Linked DNA regions of Homo sapiens: region 1 is linked to region 2. A link means that fine-mapping ties the variant in region 2 to the expression of a gene that starts in the linked region. Tissue or cell type: blood mononuclear cells. Region 2 holds a variant in brackets; the other region holds the start of a gene. All regions are shown on one strand. Distances are from middle to middle.

What was found. PIP is the estimated chance that this variant, and not a neighbour inherited with it, causes the effect.
Region 1: it holds the start of CCDC180, and the variant in region 2 is the best candidate, but not a certain one, in a credible set for the expression of CCDC180 in blood mononuclear cells (TOPMed, PIP 0.83).

Annotation. Positions count from the first base shown.
Region 1 is chr9:97,305,642-97,309,792 of GRCh38, reverse strand. CCDC180 (coiled-coil domain containing 180) reads right to left here and starts at 2,134. Exons shown (of 37, transcript NM_020893.6): 1 at 1,987-2,134; 2 at 1,661-1,810; 3 at 189-379. The coding sequence starts at 1,729. It overlaps SUGT1P4-STRA6LP-CCDC180 (SUGT1P4-STRA6LP-CCDC180 readthrough), which reads right to left. Exons shown (of 45, transcript NR_036529.1): 13 at 1,987-2,057; 14 at 1,661-1,810; 15 at 189-379. RefSeq lists enhancers at 1,929-2,429, 2,372-2,666 and a silencer at 2,372-2,666.
Region 2 is chr9:97,374,995-97,379,145 of GRCh38, reverse strand. It overlaps CCDC180 (coiled-coil domain containing 180), which reads right to left. Exons shown (of 37, transcript NM_020893.6): 36 at 3,557-3,692; 37 at 395-2,383. The coding sequence ends at 2,252. SUGT1P4-STRA6LP-CCDC180 (SUGT1P4-STRA6LP-CCDC180 readthrough) reads right to left here. Exons shown (of 45, transcript NR_036529.1): 44 at 3,557-3,692; 45 at 1,851-2,383. Among named protein-coding and RNA genes, the nearest start is that of MIR1302-8, 13 kb to the right of the region's middle. The variant T/C (reference allele first, on the strand shown) is at 2,267.

The DNA.
Region 1 (4,151 bases), 69 kb after region 2:
GTGGGAGTGGGGGAATGGGGGCGAGAGAAGCAAACCATCCTGCAAGGTAGGTATTAGCCTCCCTGCTTTAGGGGTGGTACTTGAGACTTCATTCCTACAGGCTACTCATCTTGTGCTGGCTCTTTTTGAGTTTTTGAAGGCTCAGGTACCCTAGTGCATGGGGGTGAGGCATGGACAACAGGACCTACCTGTGGAGAACAGGGTTTTCCATGATCCAGTCGTTGGGGAGGCTGTGCATCCACTTCTGCTGTCGGGGAGACATCACCTCCCCTTCAGGAGTCTCCACCTTCTTCATCATGGGTATCCTGCCACTCTTCAGGGTCACAGAACGCTCTGCAGCCCGCTTCCTGGTGGCCGCCAGGGAGTGGACCAGCTGCACCTGAATCCAGGGAGGACCAAGGATGGGGGAGTGGTCAGAGCTGCTGACTTCCTAGCACTCTCAGGCTGATGGTGGCTGTCTAGAAAGACATCCAGAGAGCTGCCCCCAGGAAGGTACTTTTCAGGAGGCCTTCAGCCCCAGGTCATATCCCTATAGGAGAGCTCTCCTCCCAGTAACAGTCACTCAGCCACTTCAAAGAAGGCCTCTTTCTAAGAACCTTAAATGAAGATCAAGATGAACATCTCAGCCTTTTTTATAATCACAAGAAATTGGAAAAACAGAACTGACTAATAATAGGGATTGGCTGAGTAAACATGGTATGTCTGTTTGATGGAATGTTAGGCATTTGTTAAAGATGAGACCCACAAATAATTTTTTATAACCTGAGGAAATGCTTAGGAGATGATATATGGTTAAATATATCACTTACATGCATTAGAAATTATAGAATTATAGAAATTAGAAATTAGAAATTATAACCAAAACTATACCGTATGATCTCAAAATTTAAAACGCATAGGAAAAGGCCCTGGGGGAAGTATGCCATGAGTTAAGAATGGCCTTAGAGAGAGCAGGATCATGTGAGTGATGTAATTGTTGTTTTGGCTTCTTTATACTTTTATAATTTCCAGAGGTTTTACAGATAATTATTTAAGGCTTAAATTAGGAATGCAAATCCCTTTTAAATAAGCAGTACAGAACTTCAAAGGAAGAATTTGGGTCTGTGTGTTTCTTTTAAGATCTTGTTTTGTCTATACAGTGCTTTAGAGAGAACAAGGCAATTTCAACAACCTACACTGTTGTCAAGAGGGCTTTACTTTAATACAGTTATGGGAGTCCTAGGTCAACAAGTGGGGAGCTGCTCAGTATGGTGAAATACATGGGCGCCCACGGGCATAGAAAAGGGTCTGTGAGATACTGTTATGAAGAAAAAGCAGATTTCAAAACACTAGTACAGAATGAAACCTATTTTTTAAATACAAAAATTAGTCATGTTTTTATGCATGGGAAAAACAGAGGTCACCCAGTGGTTCCATCCAGGCTATTTCTGAGTAATTTACATTTAAAATTTTAATTTAAGTTTTCTAATTTTCAAGAACTGACATTCTAATTTTGTATTGGTACGATTTAAGAACAAGCAAGAATTATTTTTAAAATCAAAGTAATTTCAAAGCCCTTGTTTTATTCAATTTCCAGTAGGGAAGCCCTGGGAGGGAGGGAAGTTTGGAAGAAAGCAAGGGAAGGGGGATGGAGAAAAGCGGGACAGAGGGCGGCTCCTACCTCAGCCTGGAAGATCTGCTGGTAGGCTTTCCCATTCGGAACCTGGGTCACCTTCCCCACTGACGACATCTTGGCCGCTGGCTGGATGCCCCTGCCGGGAAGCCGTCGTCCAGGAAACGCGTCTAGGCTTTGGTGTCTCAATTCCAATTCCTGAGGTTGGGAAATCGCCCGTCCCAAACTCAGGTTCAGGTCCAGGCGGGACGACGTCTGGCCTCGAGGCGGCACCCCAGGGCAGGACTCCCCGGGGAAGGACTCTCTGCTGGGGGGTAGGCGGCTGGGGAACGTCGACTTAGGGTTTTAACTTTCAACGAAACGATGAAACTAACCTCAGATGAGCTCTGAACTCGAGCAGGAGGCCGGTTCTCCCCGCCGCGCATGGCGCAAATCCGAAGGGACTCTGGGAACGCGAATAATACAGGATTATTGCTTGTGCTTCACTCTGCCATGCTCTTCGGGGAAAAGTTAACGGCGCTCAAGGTGTCGGTTGGGACTGGAACTCTAATGCGGCGCAGAATTCGCATCCGGGACCCTAATCCACCCTCCATGGGACACAGGGAGGAGAATTGGAGGGAGAGAGTAACCTGATTCAGGTCACGCTAATTAGGCGCCTACTGTGTGCTGAGAAGACCCAACCAGCCTCTGCCATCCCCCTCCCTAGCCCGCCAAGTAGACTGAGCAGCCCCTGGCCGTCCCCCTGAGCCCGGTAGATTGGAGGGAGGCCTTGCGTCCGGCCTGGCCGCGTCCCCGCCTGCAGAAAGCACCTCTCAAGGCAGCCAGGGCCGGTCCAGCGACAACTGCAGCTGGACGCCCATGGTCTCCAAGGCAACGCGGAGGGGAGGGACTGCCCCGGCCCCGCCCACGCTTTTCTTCCCAGGGAGGGGAGATTGCTCTTAGCAATGGGAGCGCCCCACGTGGCGTAGTGAAACTCAACTATTTCTTTCAATGCCAGTTCCTCCTCTCTACAAGGACTACAACCCCAGGGCTGCCAGGAGCAGCACTATTAAATGTTCTGAAAGGTGGTAGGATATATGAGATGTAGCACTGAGCCATCACGGTCAACAAAGTCCATCCTAACTTATTTGCCTTGGTTAAAACCAATCTCTGCTGGGGGACAGCATACGGTAGTGTTTGCCTGTAAGTTAGAAGCTGAAAGACTCTGGAAGAAACCATCTCTTTCTCATTTTAAAAGAGGTTGAGAGCTCAAAATTCAGGGATCAAGGCTTGCCTGGCCAGAGATGAAAATGCTTGTGGTTGGCACTGAACGTGGCCTCGGGTTTCCCATACATATGAGACACCCAGTGCCGCCTTACAGAATCCCTCCCTTTGGCAGTGATATGTTACAACTGCTAATAAATGCTCCCTATGCCAATTTTCTAGAATGAGTGATTGTTCTGTCCAGACTAGAATCAGAAATTAAGAAATGGTGAGTATAAAACCCTTTTATTCTCATTCTTCAGTCCTGGGTTTTATTAACAAGGTGAAGTACTGTAACAAAGATTAGATTCATTTTAGCTGGAAAAAGAAAACGTGTAGGTGACTGAGGGAAGGGATGAAAACACAATAACAAATAGGTAATGTCCAGGAATTACTTGCAGTCTCATATCTCTTTCCCATCCAAGGAGGCCCTACTGGCTTTGGCCTTGAACACTAGAAACTATTTTCCCTACCCAGATGCTTTCTGGGTTCTGGTTCCAGGCACATCTGTAATTTAGGGGTTTCTTTCTTTTTAAAAATTATATGGCTATAAATAGCAGGCATGGACATGTGAAGTATGGGATTTTGTTTTGATTAAACTCCATATTTATTGTCAAAAATTAAAAAAAAATGAAAAACTTCAATGGAGAAAGTAAAAATAACCCATAATCCCAGCACTGAGAATTTACCTCCCTTAACTTCCAAGTTTTTGAGACTGTGTTTGAGTTTGCATCAAACGTGGAAATTCGTGTTTGCCTTTTGGATGGCATTTCCATTCTCCTCCCAACCTGATAATATCATAGCGAAAGACTAACCAGTTAGAGATCATCTGGTTAGTCCACCTCCTGTGTTTAGATACGGGCAAAAAGCCAGAGATAGGGAACGGAAAGAATGACACCAGGGCCTCTGGATCTTTTTCTTGTAGCTCAGCATCATCTTTGATCTTTTCCCTCTCACTCTTAACTTTGAAAATGTCTCTTGACCCCATCCTTTTCCTTCCTCTATCCCAGGCTATTGTCTGTCTTCTGCATAGTCCAGACAAAGCAGAGCAATGAGGACCACCACAAGAGGCAAATATTTAATGAGAAGATTTAATGCCTGTAGTGACTATGAGAGGGGTGCCTTAAGTAACCCATTTTACTGATTAAGAAACTGAAATTCAGAGTCAGTGACTTGGCCAAGATCTCCAAGATAGGAAGATCTAGGATATGAATCTAGACCCTGTAATTCAAGTCTTGAACCATCTGACCTGTGACTAGCCAGAAAAAAAGTTATTTAACCAACTGATTGGATGTGC
Region 2 (4,151 bases):
AACAGCACTATTTTTTAGTGCTGCTACGGGCAGTCATGAACAAGTTTTTGTGTGGATCTACAGTAGCCAAAAGGTAGACAAAGTGGCATTGGGTTCCTTCAGTGCTTGTCAAGCTGGGCCTCTTGAGCCTAAGGGGGTCCCTGGGGTACAGGTATAGGGGTGATGAGAGTCCAGTCTCACTCACTATTAGAAAAGTGATTTAGATATGATTTCTCACCAACCAAACCAGCAAAAAATTTCCCCCAAATCCTGAAACTAGAACCCTTGGTGTGGACGAGAAAAATGGGCAATGGGCAATGGGCAATGGGCACTGCTTAATGGTGGGAGGGGGTGGCCTGTTTCCCTGGAGGGTGACTTGGCACCATGTCCACAGCTGCCACCCTCTGATTAAGGAATGATTACAGATGTGTACAAAGAGCTAATGTGGGAGGATGTCATCTCTGCCTTCTTTCTAGGAGCCCTGCATGGGACATCCTCGCCCTTGTCCGACAGAGGCGATCTGGTTCCCCAGGCAGTGGGAACACTCTGCAGCTGTTTAAATGACAGTGTCCCACACTGCAATCAAAGCCCCTTTGTGGGCCATGAACTGAGTTAGTGGACTGGGCTAGGATTTAAAAAGCAGGGAGAAAATATTAGAAAGCAGCCTTTCTAGTAAGGTTAAGTGCTGTCCTGTGACCTGTTGGTCTCAAGTTGTGTATGTGTGCAAGGACCGTGTGTTTAGAACATGTTTATACAGTGGGTCAGAGTCAGAAAAGTATGAAAACCAATGATGTAAATGAATACTGAAGGATATGGCATAGGGTTTATCCAGTTAACATTTACCAAGCAGTTTATGGAACCTAATGCATGTTATGATTCCATTTTATAAAAATAACTCACATACATGGAAAGATGCTATGGACAGTGACTGTCTCTAGATTCCAGGATTTTATTATTTATTTATTCGTTTATTTGAGACAGAGTCTCATTCTGTTGCTCAGGCCAGAGTGAAGTGGCATGATCTTGGCTCACTGCAACCTCCACCTCCCAGGTTAAAGCGATTCTCATGCCTCAGCCTCCCCAGTAGCTGGGATTACAGGTGTGTGCCACCATGCCTGGCTAACTTTTTGTATTTTTAGTAGATATGGGGTTTCGTCATGTTGCCTCAGCTGGCCCCGAACTCCTGAGCTCAGATGATCTGCTCGCCTTGGCCTCCCAAAGTGCTAGGATTACAGGCGTGAGCCACCGCGCCCGGCTCAGGATTTTAAAGTTATCCTTTTGCTGGTTTCATAAATTCTTTTTTCTACAATGCGCATATATTCCTTTCGGAATAATAAGCAATGAAAGGTAGCACATTGGGGTGGGGGTGGGGGGAGCACAGAAAAGAACAGGAGATTGCTTTTGCCTTGATGGAAGGGGACTCCTCACTCTCCTGGCTTCAGTGCACAAAGGCCACCAAGCTAACCAAGCTAACCAAGCAGGGCCTCACTGGGTGGAGCAAACCAGGAGAGCAGAGTGAGTGTCCCCAGGTGAGGGAACTGCACTTGGAGGGTCACACAGCTTTCAGGGGCTGGAAATTTGGGAGCTGGGGCCTCCTAGGTCTATGGCTGAGGAAACCTGTCCAGATGACACACACAGCTACCGACAAATGAAGGCTGTACGCTCACGCCATGTAATTGAAGAAGAGAGTTGACGAACAAGAGACTGGCAGGCTGGAGGACTCCAAGAGAATGATCTGGGCAACACAGGACTAAAGGAGCCTGGAAGATTTTTTTTTTTCCAAAATATTGCAATTTGCTCAGACAAATTGTGGCACAAATACCAATCAACATTGGATTAGTTATTTGTTGGGTCTAGGAACCAGTGCAGAGTTGCAATTATAACCCATACTTGTTTATTCTGTTAAATTAAAATATCATTTTCCCATGACCTTTATTTCATTTTTCAAGATGACGTGCCCTGCCCAGCATGCTGTTTGGAGGTGATGTCCTTTGAAGCTCTGGTGCCTATTTGAAGTGACTGATTCCTGGTACTCACCCTCCCTGCTAACCACGTGGAATTCCCCTTTCATGCTTGCCTTCCTCATGGGAAGAGGGCTCCACGTGGGCAGGGACCATGCTGTGTCCTGTTCGCTGGTAAAGCTACAGTGCCCGGCACAGAGCAGGGGTGGAGGGATGAAGGGAGGGAGGGATGGACGGAAAGTAGGTAGGCAGGTAGATGGACAGGGAAGGAGTCTGTATAAGAAAGTGTTTATTCATGGTGGGGCGGAGGGTCACACATACAGGCC[T/C]TGGATAGTGTGCAGGGACTGCTTCCAGCTGTCCTTCCAGCGCTGAGCCTCCTTTATCTGAGATGTACAGTCATCCTGGATCCTCTTTAGCTCCTCCTCAAATGATGCTAAATATTTCTAGAAGGAAGGTAGCAGGAGGGGTCCACATGAGGAGAGACATCTGGACCCTCTCCCCTAGGGCAATGCTGTAACTTGCTGGCAGGTGGTTTTTAACCCATTCCAGGCACTGGCAAGAGTTCTCCAAGTCACTTCTCAGGTAGAAACCAGGTAGTCCTAGTTGTTTTCCCCATTTTACAAGACAGGAAAACTGAGGCTCAGAGCCTGGCCTGGGGTCACCCAGCTAGAAGGAGGCTGAGCAGGGACTAGGACCTGTGTCTATCTGACTCTAGGCTCAGCACTCCTTCCTGAGCTCTGTCCCACACTGTGGCCTCTCGGGAGCTCAGGGCTCCCGATTTTTTGGTAGGCTGGGCCTTCCAGGCCTCCCACCCTCACTGAACTCAGCAGGCCGAACTGCACCCTCTGCCTGGGGCTTGGAGGGGAAGCTGGGGGAGGGCTGACCCTGGGCACTTCAGCCTCTCCCAGTAAGGGGGCCAGCTGGTCTCTGGGCAGGACAAGGTTTCTCTCTGGACATCAGGACCAAAGGTCCACAGATCTTCAAAGCCAAGAGGTCCCTCAAGTGGCAACTGGGTGTAGCCTCCTCATCAGGCTGTCCCCAGGGGGTCTGACAGGCACTGGGATCAAATCCTGGCTCTGCCACTCTGTAGTGGCATAGAAGGGACAAGTTTCTTTAAGCCTCAGTGTCCTCATCAATGAAATGATAATAATTTTACCTCCCTTGTGGAGTTGTTAGGAGGATTCAGTGAGATGCCTCATGTCAAGAGCAGAAGCTCTCAGTAAGTACTTCCCAGTAAGTTCTCAGGAGCTGTGACTGCTCCTGCTGCTGTGTCCCCCCTGAGCCTACGGCTACCATTGCTTCCGTGCCTGGTGACAATGTTCCCTAGCTGTGACACTACTGTGCCTTTGGAAAGCCTTCACCCCTAATCTGGGTGGGATGTCCCTCAGCTGGGCTCCCACAGCATTGGGATCACGCCTCAGACCCACATTAATGTCCTCGTGCCTGTGAATGGTGACTGTCCTGAGTGTTGAGACCTGCAGCTCTGGGGTGTGCTGACATGTGTTGCCTGCTGCACCAGCCAAATGTTGGGTGCCGGGTGATGGGAAGCTCCCCCTTCCCAAGGCAGCCGACCTGAGCTGTGCTCCCTGGGACACGCCCACTCCACCCTGTCTCACCAGGTACACAGCATCTCGGGCTTCCACGGCCGCCAGGTGGCCCAGGGTGGTTTTGGTGGTGGAAATCGATGATGTTGGCTGGAGAAGAATCTTGTTTTGGATGGTGACTTCGGTGGGTTTGATCCCTGGCCACTTCCTACAAACAAACATGTGTGAAAATCTCACAGGCTTGTCTTCATCTTTCATAATCCACCTACCAACCCTGTTGGAAAAGCTTAGCATTTCTTTGAAAAAATTATCATGGCTTTAAATATCTTAATGAAAAGAAAAAACATACTGAATGTGAATGCTGCACTTGTTCAAGCTGTTTCATATTAGCCCCCACTGGTCTCATTGCTGTGCACGGTCTGGGGTTCTGGGGGGGGAAGGGGAGTGCCACAGCTCAAGTTGCTCCCCTTTCTGAGCCTCAGTTTACTCACTGATCTGCCAGCCAGGCGGTGGCCACCAGTGCCTGGTATGCTTTTCCTATGATGCCCTGAACACCACTTCTGAGAACATAGCTGGGCAAATCACTGCTCTGCTTCTTCTTGCAGAGTCACACTCTTGGGGCACAGGGAACAGGCACATTGCCAACTCTCTTCACACATGACGGACA